Regions from separate parts of the Homo sapiens genome. Here region 2 is linked to region 1. Evidence: fine-mapped expression QTL. Tissue or cell type: whole blood. Region 1 holds a variant in brackets; the other region holds the start of a gene. All regions are shown on one strand. Distances are between the middles of the regions.

Evidence for each region. PIP is the estimated chance that this variant, and not a neighbour inherited with it, causes the effect.
Region 2: GJB6 starts here. The variant in region 1 is fine-mapped to the expression of GJB6 in whole blood (INTERVAL, PIP 0.97).

Annotation. Positions count from the first base shown.
Region 1 is chr13:20,498,283-20,508,586 of GRCh38, forward strand. All of the region lies in intron 2 of CRYL1 (crystallin lambda 1), which reads right to left. Among named protein-coding and RNA genes, the nearest start is that of CRYL1, 22 kb to the right of the region's middle. RefSeq lists enhancers at 3,676-4,672, 8,588-8,882. The variant CT/C (reference allele first, on the strand shown) is at 5,077.
Region 2 is chr13:20,228,817-20,236,816 of GRCh38, forward strand. It overlaps GJB6 (gap junction protein beta 6), which reads right to left and starts at 3,503. Exons shown (of 5, transcript NM_001110219.3): 1 at 3,378-3,503; 2 at 2,566-2,689; 3 at 1,882-1,991; 4 at 764-933.

The DNA.
Region 1 (10,304 bases):
ACACCACCATACACACTACACACACTCCATATACACACTACACACACATGCACATACCTCATACACACACTATACACACCACTTACACACACTACGCACACCACATACATACTATGCACACCAATACACACTACACACACCATATACACACTACACACACACTGCCTAATGGAAAGCCAGTGTCTAGGCCCGTGTGTCGGAATAACAGGGTTTTCTTGGAGCATTGATCTGCTCTTTAATATAAAATTATAAAAGGTTATAAAGTTTATGGAAATCTCACCTTATGGTCAAACTGATTAGATTTATTTATAATGTTTTATTAAAATTAGCATTAACATTAATAATATACCATACAAAGGTAAAATTTGGTTTTCTCTTTTGAACAAAATTTTCATGTAAGAGATAAGAGATTTTTATTTACCTTTTCAGTAAAACCACAGAAGAAAACAAATAGAGGGAAGGAGAAAGACAGATTTAGCTGGCCTCATGCTGTCTTTACTAGGTCTTAATGTTTAGGAAACTCAGTCTCCTATCAAAGAGAAAATGTTTTTGTATTATAATTTTGGCCAAATGAATGACTGTTTTATAGTGACTTCTGATCCTATTTTGTGATATCAAGTGTCTTAAAACCTTTGATATTTGACAGACTTCCCAACAGCAAAATATCAAGTTCTAAATTCTCTGACCTTAAACTAACTTTTTCAGCTATTAGGTTCCCTGAAGTCCAAGAGAGACATATTAGGCATATTAGGCTTATGTGTTATGTTAGAATTATTTAAGCCGGGCATGGTGGCTCTTGCCTGTAATTGCAACACTTTGGGAAGACAAGATGGGTAGATTGCTTGAGCCCAGGAGTAAAGAGACCAGCCTGGACAACATGGCAAAACCCCATCTCTACCCAAAAAATACAAAAATTAGCTGGGTGTGATGGCGCATGCCTGTAGTCTCAGCTACTCTGGAGGCTGAGGTTAGAGGATTGCTTGAGCCCAGGGGGCAGAGACTGTAGTGAGCCAAGATCGCATCAGTGCACTCCAGCCTGGGCAACAGAGTGAGACCCTGTCTCAAAAAAAAAAAAAAAAAATGTGGCCGGGCGCAGTGGCTCATGCCTTTAATCCCAGCACTTTGGGAGGTCGAGGCGGGTGGATCGTGAGGTCAGGAGATCGAGACTATCCTGGCTAACACGGTGAAACCCCATCTCTACTAAAAAAATGAAAAAAAAAATTAGCCGGGCGTGGTGGCAGGCGCCTGTAGTCCCAGCTACTAGGGAGGCTGAGGCAGGAGAGTGGCGTGAACCCGAGAGCAGAGCTTGCAGTGAGCCGAGATCATGCCACTGCACTCCAGCCTGGGTGACAGAGCGAGACTCTGACACACACACAAAAAAAAATGTAGGAAGCATTGTCAAATCTGAGATGTTGTTTAGCTCCCTTTGGTTATGTTTATATAGATGTGTTGTCAATGTGTTCCAGGATTATATTAGATTCTTATAATTCTGATATGTCTTAATATGTTGTCAGTAATAATTATGATTTTCATGTTAAATTGTTGTATCCCACAGAAATAACCAAATTTCCTTGTCAACAGTGTCTTTAACTGTGGTTGTCCTAAGACTTTTGTCATCCACAATTGTTGTTTTGTGTTGATTCTTCACAAAAAGTGACTTATAATCAGCTACTGTCCAGGGCTTGTTTCTTTGGGGGGAGTTCATGAAAAGGACTCTTGAATACAAGTTTCTGATAACTTCGGAGATTGTGCCATTGGATGTGAGAGAAAACTTCCAGTGCACTAATGGAAACACTGATGTGTTCACAAAGATGGCTAACTCAACATGAAGCAGAGCAGGAGTTGTCTGCATGGACGGAACTAATGGAGGACTGAAATAACTTTTATGGCTTTTTTGTTTGAAATATTGCTCATTCTTTTTGTTTTTCAGAGTCTGAAGAATTTTTTTCTTTTGAGTCATCCTTTAAGTATCTTTTAAGTATAGTGAGTAGAGTATACTTTTGTAAACAGAATTTGAGGCATATTTCTCTAATTTATCCAGAATTTATAAACTATTTGTGAGTATTCTTAATTCATGGCAATGTGTTTGTTTGCATACAGTTAATAACAACATGTTTTCTTTGGTAATGGGACACAGTTGAAGGAACTGGTTGTTTTCCCAGGGCTTTGACTAAAATGGCCTTGAGAGAGGTTCTAGCAAAGCCAATTTAGGAGAGCCTATGAGAACAGTGATTCTTGTTCCATTTTGTGTGGGTAATCAGGCCAAGTATATGGGACTGAAGCTTATTTTGCAGGTAGATTGGTCCTGCTGTGATGTCTTTGTGAAAGTGGTAGACTGGAGAAAAAGATTGTGTTTCAGAAGAAAAACTTTAGTATTAGATTAGCCTTTGATTCCTGGATGGTCATGAGGTCTTCCATGGTATGGAGCTGCCCACAATGCCTCTCCTCAGCAGGAAGGAGACAGAAAGATGGATGACCAGATGCCCCATGGTTGAGGAATCTATAAACAAGGGGAGACTGAAACCCACTCAATTTTTTCAGTAAACATAGAAATTGATACTTTTTGCCTTAAAGCTTGAAATTTCTATTGGTTTTATCTGAGTTCTTTCCTCAGGAAATTACTTCAGGCATCTCAAAAAAAAAAGTGTTGAAGAACTGAAACTTACCAGATCATCACATCCATACAATGAGACTCCAGGCCCCTCATTCACCATGATTGCTTCCTTGCCCCCCCCTAGTTCCTGTTTTCCTACACAGTGCTACATTTCTTTCCTGCTATATAAACCCCTGATTTTAGGTGGTCAGGGAGATGGATTTGAGACTGAACTCCCATCTCCTTGGCTGCAGCAGCCGATTAAAGCCTTCTTCCTTGGCTGTACTCATCATTTCAGTCATTGGCTTTCACTGCTGTGAGCAGCAGCACCTAGACCAAACTCTTGGTGTTTTGGTAACAAAACCACATTATGAGGAAGGTATTATTATGTCTCCATATCCCAGATGAGGAAACAGATTGAGTGAGTTACCCAGCTATGAAGGCTGAGCCAGATCTGACTGCAAAGCTCACAGTCTGGGCCGCTGAGCCACACTGGACCCCTCTGCACTGCTCACTTATTTTCACACTGTGCTGCCTGCTTTCTATCTACAGTATGACTCCATGTATAATGCAGCTTCCTGAGGAATAAAGGGCATGGCTAACATTTCTTTCAGAAATCTCAGTGCCAGCCTATAGTGAACTCCCAAGGGGATTTCTGGCAGGGTCTTTGGCTCCCACCTATTCCTGAAGGTCTGAGGATCTGAAGAGCTAAAGATGGGGAAGAATGGGGCAGACATGGAAGATCAGGTAAGATTAGCTTAAGGAGGTGAGTCTACCTCATCTCCAGCCAACAGAAATTCTAGCACACTGGAGGCAAAGAACAGAGAGCAGTGAGGAAATAGAAAGGCCAGGGATTGCTTCCTTATGGGATGGCTGTGTTGTGCTGTCTGCTTTGACGTTGACATTGCTGTTGTTTCTAGGCCCTGATTATGCAGAGGCAGAGGGCTGAGCCAGACTCCACCCGACTCCAGCCCCAGGGATCACTCTAACTCCAGACGGGCAGGTTAAGTTGAGGCTGCACAAAAATCTTTAATTAAGTTACTGCAATGCAAAAGAGTCAGAAGACAGCCCAACCACACAGTCCATGTGGCACGGTGATAGTGTGTGGACACTAACAATCATGGCAGGTGTTTCTGAAGTTGGGAAGAGGGCAGAACACTCAAGTTTTCATTAAGAAGAGTAGCTCCAGACTTCCGTTTGACAGCACAATGTTTTAAAAATCTGGCATGCCTATCTCCAAAGACTACCTCCAGTTTGCCCAGGTCTCCACCCCACCCCATTATTCACACCCATTAGCCACCCAGCCCCCTTAGACTTCGGGATCTGCAAACCTTGTAGTGAGGCATGTGAACTTAAATGCACTGTAGGAAGAAAGAAAACTACCTTCTGTCGCACAGGAGGGCTGTGGGTCTGCCTGCCTGGATCCACGCCACTGTGGCCCATCCGGGTCTCTGCCCTCCCCGCTTCCCCCTCCTCACTCAGGTCTCCTCCCTCCGGCCGGGCGAGGTGGCTCACACCTGTAATCCCAGCACTTTGGGAGGCCGAGGTGGGTGGATCACGACATCAGGAGATCAAGTCCATCCTGGCTAACATGGTGAAACCCCATCTCTACTAAAAATGCAAAAAAAAATTAGCTGGGCGTGGTGGCGGGCGCCTGTAGTCCCAGCTACTCGGGAGGCTGAGGCAGGAGAATGGTGTGATCCCGGGAAGAGGAGCTTGCAGTGAGCCGAGATCACGCCACTGCACTCCAGCCTGGGCGATAGAGCGAGACTCCGTCTCAAAAAAAAAAGGTCTCCTCCCCTCCTCCCTCCAGGCCAGTGGTAACACTGGGATCTGGGTAGCAGGGAGACAGACAGGGGAGGAGAGGGCCTGCTTAAGTGTCAAGGCAATCAATTTCACCAAAGTTTACACTGGAGTATCAAGGCCCGGTTAAAAAATGGGGTACTTTGGTTTCCTGTTCACCTTGTTGGAAACCTCACAGGGAGACAATGGCCAGTCAAGGTAGGAGTCACACAATTCTTGAGTCCAATCCTTGACAGCACCTACACCTTCATAGCCCAACCATGACTGCTAATGTGCATTGGTCTAGATGCACAGCACACAGGATCATGCCGGAAGCACGCAGGATCATACCGGAAGCGCACGGCCTCAGAATATGCAGCAAGATCACTCGGAATCCTGCCGCCCAGAGTCAAAGTATTAATATTTTGGCTTCTCCCCAATACTATGGATATATAATTAGCATATATATGACTTTTACAAATCAGATAAAACAAGGCTATTTTTATTTGGGAAGAAAAATAAGGCAAATGAAGCAATTATTTGATCTGTCCTAATGACAGCTAAGTGATAGCAGGATCTGTGAACTCACAGGGAAGTCAGATTGAACAACCCGGCTGAACCCGCAGCCACTGCCATGAACTTTGGGCAACAGACACGGGCTTTAATAATTTTGGCTGGCTCAGCTGGGCTCACTCATGCGG[CT/C]TGCAATGAGTAGTGGGTTGTCTGGGGGCTGGTCTAGGATGGCTTCCCTCATCTGTTTAGCAGTCGGTGCTGTGCTGGATGGTGCTGGCTGGTAGCTGGGCCACACACCTCCCGCTGACTAGGCTGGGCTGACCAGATGAGGAGGGAAGAAGGGTCCCCAGCAGGAAGCGAACGAATCTCAATGCACATGCACTTTCCAGGCCTTCTGCTGTGCATGCCACATGTGCTAATAACCGACTGGCCGATGCAAGCCCGTGGCTAAGCCCAGAGTAAGGGGGTGAGAGGAGCAAAGTCACAATGCACAGGGGAGTGCAGACAGAGACGGGAACAATTTGTGACCATACTCAGTTATTCTGGCCAACAGTATGTGGGAAAACTAAAGGTTTCAAATCAGGAGAACAGACCAATCCAGATCAAAACACAGTTCAAGATTAGGCCAGGGCAGAGACCTAGGTAGCAAGTTAAAAACAGGTCAGAGACCCAGTTACTGGAAATGCCTGCGTCCAAGCACAAGAAATTCAGTCACTTAGGAGACACAGTACAGGCCTACCTAGTTTCAGAGATCACTGCTGGTGGTTTATTAACTCCTAGTCCATTCAGAAAGATGATTCACTTTTAGGTGGAGCTGGGTGCCAGGGTGACCATGTACAGATGGTGGAGAAACCAAGATCGAAGCGTACAGGCCCCTAAAGATGGCGATTTCAGATAGGGACTCAGGCCAGACAAGGCAGTGTGTTTGGCTCCTGGAGTTGGGGTGGTCACCAAGATGTCAACACAGCCTAAGTCAGGGCGGCCTGGTCCCTTGAGGACTAGAATGGCCCACCTGCTACGTGGAAATGAGTCTAGCTCCAAATCTTAAGAACTAAAACACTCCTGATCTGTAGGTCCGTGTTACAACTTTGTTTACTTGATTTGCTTTTCTTTTTTCTTTTCTTTTCTTTTCTTTTTTTTTTTTTTTTTTTGAGACAGGGTCTCGCTCTGTCACCTAGGCTGGAGTGCAGTGGTGCAATCTTGGCTCACTGCAATCTCTGCCTCCCACGTTCAAGCGATTCTCCTGCCTCAGCCTCCTGAGTAGCTGCGATTACAGGCACCCACCATCACGCCCAGCTGATTTTTTTGTATTTTTAGTAGAGATGGGGTTTTACTACGTTGGCCAGGCTGGTCTCGAACTCCTGACCTCAGGTGATCCACCTGCCTTGGCCTCCCAAAGTGCTGGGATTTGCTTTTCTTCTTAAAACACAGCTTCATCCTCTAAACTTCTTACTTGAGACCTAATGCAGGCCAAGCACTGGGCATACAATGGTGAACAAAGACAAAGCAGTAAAGTATCTGCTAATGAGGTTCTCCAAGGTCAAGCGACCTTCTATTATGAAATGTAAACATGCTAAGTTTTAAGTTTCTTATTGTGCCACCCTGTTAGAAAAAGATTAGTCTCAGATGACAGCTTTTTGTTTTTCAAGTTCACTAAGATCCCTTGGCATGGTATGAGTTGTGATAATTTCTTTTATCTTCTAATGTTTTAATATTTTTTTAAATCAACTTCCCCCCGTTTAAGTTCATTTTTACAGGTTCAGAATCCATATGTACCATTTCTACTATTTAATACCATTAGTTTTTAATAGGTCTAACACACACAGAATATTCATGCAGATGTAGTGAAATTTCAACCACGTGACATTTTCTAATATGAAACGTTAAAAAAGAATCAGAATATGGCTGGGCACAGTGGCTCACGCCTGTAATCCGAGCACTTTGGGAGACCAAGGCAGGTAGATCACCTGAGATCAGGAGTTAGAGACCAGCCTGGCCAACATGGCAAAACCCCATCTCTAATAAAAAATACTAAAATCAGCCAGACGTGGTGGCACATGCCTGTAGTCCCAGCTACTCGGGAGGCTGAAGGAGGAGAATTGCTTGAACCCGGGAGGCAGAAGTTAGAGTAAGCCAAGATCGTGCCACTGCACTCCAGCCTGGGCAACAAAGTGAGACTCTATCCCACCAAAAAAAAAAAAAAAAAAAAAAATCAGAATATGGGAAGTGGGCCAAACTGCAAGGTGGAATAGACGGTGAGAAAAAAGTGTATGAGGAATATGACTGGAAACATTACCTTCGGAGACTCTAGAAAAGGTTCCTGTGACTCAGTCAAAACAATTGCTGAGCTAATAGGTTCAGGCTAGCAGGTTCAGGCTCTGGGGACAGGAAACGTGCCTGTTGCTTATTTCTGCGTCCATAATGGCTAGTACAGAGACCACACGTCACTGCATAGTGAGGGACACTGGGGGTGTGATGTATGGTCTGTCCTGAGGGAGCCCACGACCTACAGTGGTAGACAAAGACCACAAAACAGGGTGTCAGGGAAGATGCCTGTGGACACAAGCTATTTGGACCCAAAAGTCAATGCAACCCGATTGGAAAGATACATCATTTATACTTCTTGACAAAAGGATTAAGTTGGTTTTCCTTACATTCCTTTTGCCTGATATGTGGTCAGGGACATTTTAACCTTGGGGTTTCTGAACATCTAAGCACCACAGGTCATACACGGTGTTGCTGTTGACAAGACTTCACAATCATTAACCTCCTGGTCTCTGAACTCATTGCACTGACCAAAATACTTACAAAAACAAAGTTTGGTTTCAGTCCTTTTACCTTGGACTCTCTGTGCGGGAATGGTACATTTGAAGATCTTGCGATGTAAGAAAGAGAAAAAGGTAGCTTTATTTAAAAGTCACTCAAGACTAAGAATCCAGTACTTCCTAGGGGGTGCAATATGACACAACATAACTGGATTTTCCTGAAGTTATTTGCCAGTTATTTGAGAAGGAAGAGGTAGTTGGTCACAAGATATCCTAAGCTTCCCTTTTCCTGCCAAAGAAGTACAACCAGTTCTGCATATTTAACTCAGCTTAAATGTGTGTGTTATAAAAATAAAGTACCTGCTACTGAGGAAAGATTTGTATGTACTCCCTTAAAATCCTAGGTACATAAGAATTCAGTACATTTGCTTCTTCTAGAATATGACTGCTAACAGTCATAAGTTATTTAGGTTTTTCTGGTTCAAAAATCTTACAGACTGTATCTAAAAGTTAAATCTAATCAGGCACCAATGATATTAAGAAATACAGCTCTTAATTAAGCATAGTAGGATAACAGGAAAGCCTTTAACCTGGTTAAAAAAAAAACAAAAAAACTTATCCACAACCCTCCATCATTCAGCATCATCAGTCCTGATGCCTGAAAGGACTTTAAAAATCTTTAATGATGCATCTAAAAATAAGGCCTAAAACACAAATACCCAAGAAATAGAACAAAGGACTTTCAATTAGGAACCGTGGGATTTTCTCTTAATTACAAGTGGGTTGGAATTGGCTTTACAGGATAAAAGATGAAATGATAACAGAATTGAAAAGTCTATGGTAGCAGCGAGCAAACTACAGCCCACAGGCCAAATCTGGCCCATCTCCTATTTTTATATGGCCTGTGAGATAAGGATGTGATATGGTTTGGCTGTGTTCCCACCCAAATGTCATCTTGAATTGTAGCTCCCATAATTCCCATGTGTTGGGGGAGGGACCTGGTGGGAGATAACTGAATCACAGGGGCAGGTGTTTCCCATGCTATTCTCATAACAGTGAATAAGTCTCACGAGATCTGATGGTTTTATAAAGCGGAGTTTCCCTGCACAAGTTCTCTTGTTGGCCACTCTGTGAGATGTGCCGTTCACCTTCAACCATGATTGTGAGGCCTCCCCAGCCGCGTGAACTATGACTCCATTAAACCTTTTTCTTTCTTAAATTGTTCAGTCTCAGGTATGTCTTTATTAGCAGCATGAAAACAGACTAATACCGGATGGTTTTTACATTTTTAAACAGTTGGGAAAATTTTAAAATAACATTTTGTGACTCTGAAAATTATACGAACAAAGTTCGATGTTAATCCATAAAGTTTTATTGGAATACAACCACCTCTATTTGATTATTGATTGTCTATGGCTGCTTTTACTTTACAACGAACGGCTGAAACAGAGACCATATGACCCACAAAGCCTACAATATTTACTATCTGGTCTTTACAGAAACAGTTTGTCAACTCCTTGTCTGGAGTCCACTTGGGGCTGGCTTAAAGCATGACCTAATCAGAGATTCACGGGTCTCCTCTTCCCTTGGAGGTACTCTCCTTCTCCAGTACTGGGCCAGCTATGAAGCTAATGTCTCTCAGCTCCAAACCTACCTGTTGCATATACTGTCACCAGAAAACTGATTAAAAGTCCACGCCCAGGCTGGGCACAGTGGCTCACACCTGTAATCCCAGCACTTTGGGAGGCCAAGGCAGGCGGATCACAAGGTCAGGAGATCGAGACCATCCTGGCTAACACAGTGAAACCCCGTCTCTACTAAAAATATAAAAAATTAGCTGGGCGTGGTGGCGAGCACCTGTAGCCCCAGCTACTCCGGAGGCTGAGGCAGGAGAATGGCATGAACCTGGGAGGCGGAGCTTGCAGTGAGCCAAGATCGAGCCACTGCACTCCAGCCTGGGCAACAGAGCAAGACTTTTCATCTCAAAAAAAAAAAGAAAAAAGAAAAAAAAAAGTCCATGCCTGGCCAGGCACAGTGGTTCACAACTGTAATCCCAGCACCTTGGGAGGCTGAGGTGAGCTGATCACTTCCAGACAAGCCTGGCCAATATGGCGAAACCCTGTCTCTACAAAAAAATACAAAAATTAGCTGGGCGTGGTGGTGCACACCCCTAATCCCAGCTACTTGGGAGCCTGAGGTGAGAGGATCAACTGAACCCAGGAAGTGGAGGCTGCAGTGAGCCAAGATCACACCACCCCACTCCAGCCTGGGTGATGGAGACAGACATGGTCTCAAAAAAAATAAAATAAAATAAATGTCCAGGCCTCCTGAAAAGCCAGGATAGCCCTCAAGGACAGAAGGAGAAGCATTTTTTAGCAGCCACCATTTCCAAAGTGGAGCTTGCTATGCTCTTTAATACACAAATGTGGGAATAAAAGATGAATTTAATTAAGTAGATGTAATTTACTCAGGAAGACCACAAATTCCTTAACATTCTTTACAATTATAAAATTAACGGCTTTTTTATTATCAATAAATTACTTCCTATTGCTCCCTAAATCACCTCCATAAAACCAAATATTAAGCTGTTTGTGTTACATTTCCTGTGATGCCTTTTAAAAACATTTTGGGCTGGGTGCAGTGGCTCACGC
Region 2 (8,000 bases), 270 kb before region 1:
GAAATATCTAGCTCTAAAAATAAGTAAACCATGGACTTTACTTTTGAGGATCCACACAGCATTGTGAAGATAGGTTGTTCTTTCCTTTTACAATTCAAATAATTTAGATCTATTGGCATTTGACTGCACTAATGAAATTTCTTGATTGTTTTAAAACTTCTTAGGAAATTAATCACAACTAGCTTATTTATCTATGCCATTATAATTTCACTAATGACAGAACCAAAACTAAAGCCCCCAAAGTTAGAGTGTAACCCCTCAGCATATTTTTCTAGATAGCTCTGTTCCCCTTTCAATGTCATTTAGCAAAAAAAAAAAAAAAAAAAAAAAAAAATTTTTTTTTTTTTTTTTAGACAGAGTCTTGCCCTGTTGCCCAGGGTGGAGTGCAATGGTGCAATCTCAGCTCACTGCAACATCTGCCTCCCCGGTTCTAGTGATTCTTGTGCTTCAGCCTCCTGAATAGCTGGGACTACAGGCATATGCCACCATACCTGGTTAATTTTTTTTTTTTTTTTTTTTTTTTTTTTTTTAGTAGTGACAGGGTTTTGCCACCTTGGTCAGGCTGGTCTTGAACTCCTGACCTCAGCCTCGGCCTCCCAAAGTGTTGGGATTACAGGCATGAGCCATCGCGCCTGGCCATCTAGGGAGTAGTTGATAGATCTGAGAACAGGAACATGTGCCTCCCAATTTCGAAGTTAGCTTTGGATAGTCGGGGAGTCTGCATAGATAAAAGGAAAACAATATCAAAGCAAAACAAGCAAACCTGAGTCCTGTTTCCAACGACTGCCAGTGTTTCAGACCCAAAGAATGAGGGCAAGATCCCTCTGCGAGGGTTTCAGACCTCCTTCTCCTACCCCACTGGAGTGCCTAGAAGCCAATGGTGCACAGTGATGATACGAATGTCAATCTTTGCTCGGTCAGTGAGGATGTCGCCTGTTGAGGGAAAAATAGTAGCTGTTGCCATATTCCTTTAACTCCCCCCCCCCCCGCCCCCCGCAATATGTCCCCTGAATAAACTTTGTGGGTAGTTTTTCTTCATTCCCAGAACTGTTATGAGGTAAGTTCAGAAATTGCCAGCTTCCTGATGCTCTATGCTTTGAACACACAAAATAATCAAAGGTGCTCTTTAGTAGGATCCTTTCCCTATCAAAATAACAGTAACACCCAATCTGAGGCCTCAAGCCCACTCCTTGAGCAAAACAAAAAGGGACAGGGGAGAGTTTGAGACACTGGCTACACCCTGATCCCCAAATCAGTGGTTTAAAAAAAATCTCAGACTCTTTCTTCAATCAGGAAGAATAGATTTCTTTTGTCTCTAGAAATCTCAGGTCATCCAAGGGACAACCTGATAGTTGATTTTTAAATTTAGTGACAAAAAACTTCAGCAACTGTCCTGATAGAGTAACAGCTAGTGATAACAATGGGTCAGGGATTCATATATTTCAAAATTAACTCAATAAAAATGAAACGTTTCTGTCTGTGGAGTCTAGATGTAAAAATGGAAAACTCATGCAATTACGTATGTTTCTTACATCATTTAAGAATTCAAAGAGTTAAAAATTAATTTCCATTAAGTTAAACTTTCCTTCTCTGGGTCTTGTTAGCAATATATGTTTGTTCATTCAAGCAAACCTGTGTCCTTTCCAAACATTTAAGCTCAACTAGATTTAAATGACCCTGGGAATAAAAATGGAGCAGGCCCTCTGGGGTTCCAGGTCTATGCTCATGCACTAAGCAACTAAAACAGAAATCATAACCTATGGCAGGTGGCCATTAGAAGGTTATGCCCTCACAGACCAAGAAGCTTGGGTCAGAAATCACTTTCCCACAATTTTATCCCATTTAACATTTAAACTAATATATGCAAACTGCTCACAGCACCTGGAATATTCAAATTGAATTAAAGATGCATGAAGAGGGCGTACAAGTTAGAATTTTTCTTTCGCCATACAGAAATTGTTTAGCCAGATCTTCTGTACTTCTTTTCCTTCCTAACACTCAGAATTCAGAAGAGAAGACATAAGAAAAAAAGCATAAAGTCATCATTACCTGTATCAGAATTTGTTTAAAAAACAACCAGTGGGGCAGGTGAACTGACCAGCGTCTTCCCAGCTTTAGTCACTGCAGTGGCAATGAGGCGCTCTCCACACCCCCAGTTATGTGACAGGCTAGAGCCCTGGTGTTCTCTCTTCAGAACCCCCCTCTCCTCCTTGGCAAGCTTCAAGCAACACCCCCAAAGACGCTGCTGGATCCAAACAACAGACAAAGCTCTCCACAGGAGCAGTTCTGAGCAGCACCCTGCAATTCTAAGGAGACTGCATGGGGGCAGGACATTTTCTTCTAGAACACTGGTTAGATTCTGCTAGAACTGGGGCAAGAAAATAGCTGTATGGCATAAAGTCTACTTGAGGGAAAAGAACAACCCGGCACGGTTACGTTCAATCAGACACTAAACAGAGTGCACGCCCACCCAGGGGACACTGAGGTCGCTGGGCCAGTGTCCCCGCCTGGTTGCAGGTCCCTAACCCCTCCGGGAGTGCAGAGCTGCGGGCAGGCCACACTCACCCTGACCCTTCCTGCTCCCCAGGAAGGGAGGTCAGCCCCGTTTGCAAAACACAGGATGCCCGTGACACCGGAGACAGGTCTTCTTCACCGACAGGAAGTGCCTTCTGGTGCCTGCACGTTTTAACTAAGATGTGTCGCCAATTACTTTTAATTACTGTCGTCCACGCTATTGTCATCAGCATTTCACAAGTTTCTCGGAAGCCCATCACGCAGCCCATACCCTGCGGTTCTCCGGGGACTTATGCATCGGCCCAAGTTGAGGGTTTGTCTGAACTGAAACCCGCATCCTAGACCTGGCTTTCTTCTCCCCAAATCCAAGGGGACACCCCGGTGACCCACAAAAGCTTAGAAAATCCAACACGCAGCAAATGAAACGGGGGAAAGGGGCACCGGCCCTCACTCTGGCCTCTTAGACACACGATATGAAACCTTCATAAAACCTGTTGTACAAGTCAAAGGGGACCACGCTGGGGTAAAAGTCAAACCAGTCCATCCTCGTTCCTCTGCGTACAGAGAGAGGGTCCAGCGCGGGCGGCGCCCACTGCCATCGGGCCGGGGCCGGGGCGCGTGGACAGGAGGGTGCGGATAGAGGCAGATCGGGGGCCCGGTCGCCCCACGTGCGGCCAGACACCCATCCCGGCCGCGCTCTGCCGGCTCTGATCCGGTGCCAGACAGGAGCGACAGGGGCGAGGTGGGGACCAGCCGCCGACCTCACCTGTTTTGTTTTCTTGGAGGAAATTCCTCCGCTGGGGGGCCGAGGTGGCACCGCCCGCTCGCCCCCCGCAAGACCCAGCCGGTCCGCGCCCGCTTACCTGCTCTGCGGCCGGCGGCCCTGGCGCGGGCTCTGCGCGGGGCGGCGCCCTTCGCTCCGGCTGGGCAGGCAGGTCGGGCTCGGGCGCCGCCGGCTGTCGGGCTCTCGTCGGGTTTCGGGTGAAGGCCCCGGCTCCCACCTGCTGCGCCTTTTAACCGCGCCCCACCCCGCCTCTGCCCTGACGCGGCTCGGGCGGGCTGCGGGAGGCGAGCGCTGTCACTCGACGAGCCCCCCGCCCCCACCTACCCGGGGCGCACTAGCCGCTGGGCGCGGACCGTCCCCCTGAGGAGCAAGGAGTGCAGGACCGGGGCTGTCCCTCCGGGGCCGGATGCGCAGAGCGGGGACCTTTTTCCCGTGGCGGGGGCGCAGGGTGGGGGACCCCTAAGAAGTGCACAGTGCGCGGGGCCCTCTTTCCGGCCCTTGGAGGGAACGGGGTACCGGGGATGCAGGGGGTAGGGCTCTCCCTCGGGAGCGCAGAGGGCGGGCCCAGCCCCCTCTGCACGGGTGCAGGTGTGGGGCGCCTGCTCAGGCCCTCGAGGGAACTCTTCCTCCCTAGTGCACCCGTGGGGAGCAGTGTGAGGGGCAGGCTGTGTTTTTGCCAGGACACATCCTCAGTCTTTCTGGGTGATCCAGCCTTCTCATAGCCCGCGGGGTGCACAGACCTCTCCTATAGGAGCCTGGAGGTTCTTTATTAATTAATGACCACTTAGAGGAGGTACAGGGGTTGTTTTTATTAATTACCTCCATCCTTTGAAGACTCCTCCGGGGAAGCGGAGCAGGCCTTCCTCGGGACAGTGCACCAGGAGAGACCACATTGCCTCCCCGCTTTTCAGTCAAGACTAGAAAGCTCAGGGCCAGTACAGGGAGTGGTGCAAGGGCTGGTGGGGTGGAAACGTTGGAAGCTATTTAGGCACCTGGCTTTACAGGTTCAAACCTGTCACGCATCGGACAAAAGATGTGTGACTTGCTTATTCTACAAAACTGTTCGGTAATTAAACGTCCCCACCTAAACCATATGCCACTTGTTGGGTCATATTCTCCCACGAAACAATTAAGATGTCTGTTAAAGGTCATGGAATTTGAGCCAAGACTTCATAAAAATCCGCTTTCCAAAATATTTTATTTGAGGAGAACAAGGTTCTTAAAGAATTTGCCCAAGTCAAGTTTTAAAAACTTTGGGGAGGCCCCTGAAATGGCCTTGAACTTGGAGAGTGGAGAGACACAGAAATCTCTAGGCTTTTTAAATTTATTTATTTATTTATTTATTTATTTATTTATTTATTTATTTTGACTAAGTCTGGCTCTGTTGCCCAGGCTGGAGTGTGGTGGTGTGATCTCAGCTCATTGCAACCTCTGCCTCCCGGGTTCAAGTGATTCTCCTGCCTCAGCTTCCCGAGTCGCTGGGATTACAGGCCCGCACCACCATGCCTGGCTAGGTTTTGTATTTTTAGTAGAGCTGGGTTTCACCATGTTGGCCAGGCTGGTCTGGAGCTCCTGACCTCAGGTGATCCACCTGCCTCAGCCTCCCAAAGTGCTGGGATTACAGGCGTGAGCCACCGCGCCGAGCATCTCTAGGCTTTTTTGTTAGACATCCTCACACTGCCCAGATGTGCCCTATGCGGTAAATCTTGGGTGCTCTGTCCTGCCCCACACAATCTAACTGTGGACTTCCCAGTCTTCTCTCCATTCCTCTCCCAAACAGATGCTTCAGCCAGGCTCAGCTGTTTGCATAGTAAAATAATTTTTCTAAGCAGATTGTAAACTTCTTTGGGGATTATAAACAGTTTAAGCTTTTCTTCCTCTTCTTCTTCTTTTGCATTTCTACAATACTAAGTACTTTGCTCATAGTATGTGCTGCTCCATGAGTATTTGAATATTGCTTGGCAAAGCTGAACCAGCATAGCAGATAGTCCTGGAAATAGCTTTTGCTTTTTCTAAAGCATGCCCTGTTCTCAATCCTGCACCTGATTCCATGCAGTACTGTGTCTGAGCATTGACATCCTGGACCAGTGGAAATTGTTCTAGGACTGGTGCAGGATAGAACTTTCAAACCAAAGTTGTCACAGAGAATGTGTTGCATTTGCTCATGTGTGCAAAAATGAAACCATCTCATCACTGTGTAAAATATCTCTTTTTCTGTTCAGGTTATCTATATTAGTCTGCATGGCCTTAACATTGAACACTGTCCTTCAGTTTTTGCTACTCATCAGACAGTCTTGTTGCAGCAGAAATTAAATGTGGACTGTATAAAACTTAAGGACTTGATGGGATGCGCATTTGAAAACTGAAAATTAGTTGTCTTAGTCCATTTGTGTTGCTATAACAGAATACCATAGACTGGGTAACTGATAAAGAAAAGAAATTTATTTTTCAGAATTCTAGAGGCTGGGAAGTCTGATATCAAGATGCTCGCATCTGGCGAGGGTTTTCTTGCTGTGTCTTCCCATGGCAGAGGTGGAGGGGCAAAAGAATGAGAAGATAGGGAAAGAAAAGAGAGAGAGGTGGGGGTGGAGAGAGAGGAAGGGGTTCAAACTCATTGTTTTTTCAGGAACCCACTCTCAAGATAACTAACCCACTCTAGAGATCACAGCATTAATCCATTCATGAGGGCAAAGCCATCATACCTCCTCACCTCTTAAAAGTCCCTCCCATCTTTCAACACTGTTTCATTGGGGATTAAGTTTCCAACACATGGACTTTAGGGGACACATTCAAACCATAGCATTCTGTCTTAGCCCCCCAAATTCATGCCTTTCTCACATGTGAAATACATTCATTCCATCCCAATAGTCCCCAAAGGCTTAACTCTTCCAGCACCAACTGAAAAGTTCAAATCCAGAGTCCCATCTAAATCAGATAAAGCTAAGACTCCAAGGCAGGCATAGCTGGCCTGAGGCAGACTCCTTTCCAGCTGTGAACCTGTGAAATCAAAACAGGCTATCTACTCCCAAAAGACAATGGTGGGGCAGGCATAGGAGAGATATTTTCATTCCAAAAGGGAGAGAGAGGCAGGAAGAAAGGGGTAACTGGTTCCAGCTACATCTAGAACCCAACATGCATGTGTTAGGCTGTTTTTGCATTGCCACAAATAAATACCCGAGGCTGGGTAATTTATAAAGAAAAGACAGGCCGGTGTGGTGGCTCACGCCTGTAATCCCAGCACTTTGGGAGGCTGAGGCAGGAGGATTGCTTGAGCTCAGGAGTTTAAGACCATCCTGGGCAATATAGTGAGACCTCATCTCTACTAAAAAAAAAAAAAAAAAAAAAAATTAGCTGGGTGTGATGGTGTGTGCCTGTAGTCCCTGTTACTCAGGAGGCTGAGGCAGGAGGATCACTTGAGCCTGGGTGATGGAGGCTGCAGTGAGCTATGATCTTGCCACTGTGCTCCAGCCTGAGCAACACAGTGAGACCGGTCTCAAAAAAAGAAAAGAAAAGAAATTTAATTCACTCATGGTTCTGCAGACAGTGCAAGAAACATGGTGCTAGCATCTGCTTCTGGTGAGGGCCTCAGCAAGTTTCCAATCACGTTGGAAGGACAAGGGAGAGCAAATGTCTCACATGGTGAGAGTGCGAGCAAGAGAAAAAGCAGGGAGGTGCCCTATACTTTTAAATAACCAGATCGCAAGTGAACTCATTGGTCACCAAGGGGATGGCACTAAGCCATTCATTAGGGATCCACCCCCATGATTCAAACACCTCCCACTAGGCCTCGCCTCCAACATTGGAGATTACACTTCAACATGAGATTTGGAGGGGACAAATACCCAAACTATATCAATGGAAAAAAAACATTAAGTCTTAAAACTGGTGAATAATCTCCTCTGACTCCCTGTCCTGCGATCTGGGCACACTGGAGTGGGGCTTGGACCCCTCAAGACCTCAGGCAGCCCCTCCCCTATGGCTTTGCTGGGATCAGTCCACCCAGCAGCTCTCAGAGGTTGGAGTCTCATGCCTGCAGCTTTCCCAGGTTGGAGTTGCACACTAGTGACCCTACAGTTCTGGGGGATCGGGGCTCCCCGGCTCCCATGCCTCACCTCTGTGACAAGTGTCTGCCTGAGCCCCTAGCCGGTCCAAGTCATCCTTTGAAATCTAGGTGGAGGCCACCATGGCCCCACAGCTTGTACATTCTGCATGTCTGCAGAGTCAGCACTACATGCATGCCACCAAGGTTTGCAGCTTATACCTTCCAGAATGGTGGGTCAAACTGTGGGGTGCTGTGCCAGAATTTGGGGAGCAGAGTCCCAGGGCAATGTAGGGCAGTGTATGCTGAAGTCCCACAGGCACCTCTCTGGGAACCTTGCCCTCAAAGTCTTAGCTTACCTTGAAGATCTCCGGGTAATGACCCTTCAGGGTCATTGTCTAATTGTCTTGGTGAATAGAAAGAACCTGGTTTCCTTCTATCCATCATCTCTTTAGCAGTGTCTTGGCCACCCTCAATAGTCTGTCGTGAACATGTTTTTTATTCTTACATGGCCAGGCTGAGAGTTTTCCAAATATTTCTGTTCCATTTCCCCTTTATTTATAAGTTCTGTCTTTATTTTACTTTTTGAGATGGAGTCTCGCTCTGTCACCCAGGCTGGAGCGCAGTGGCGCGATCTCGACTCACTGCAAGCTCCGCCTCCCG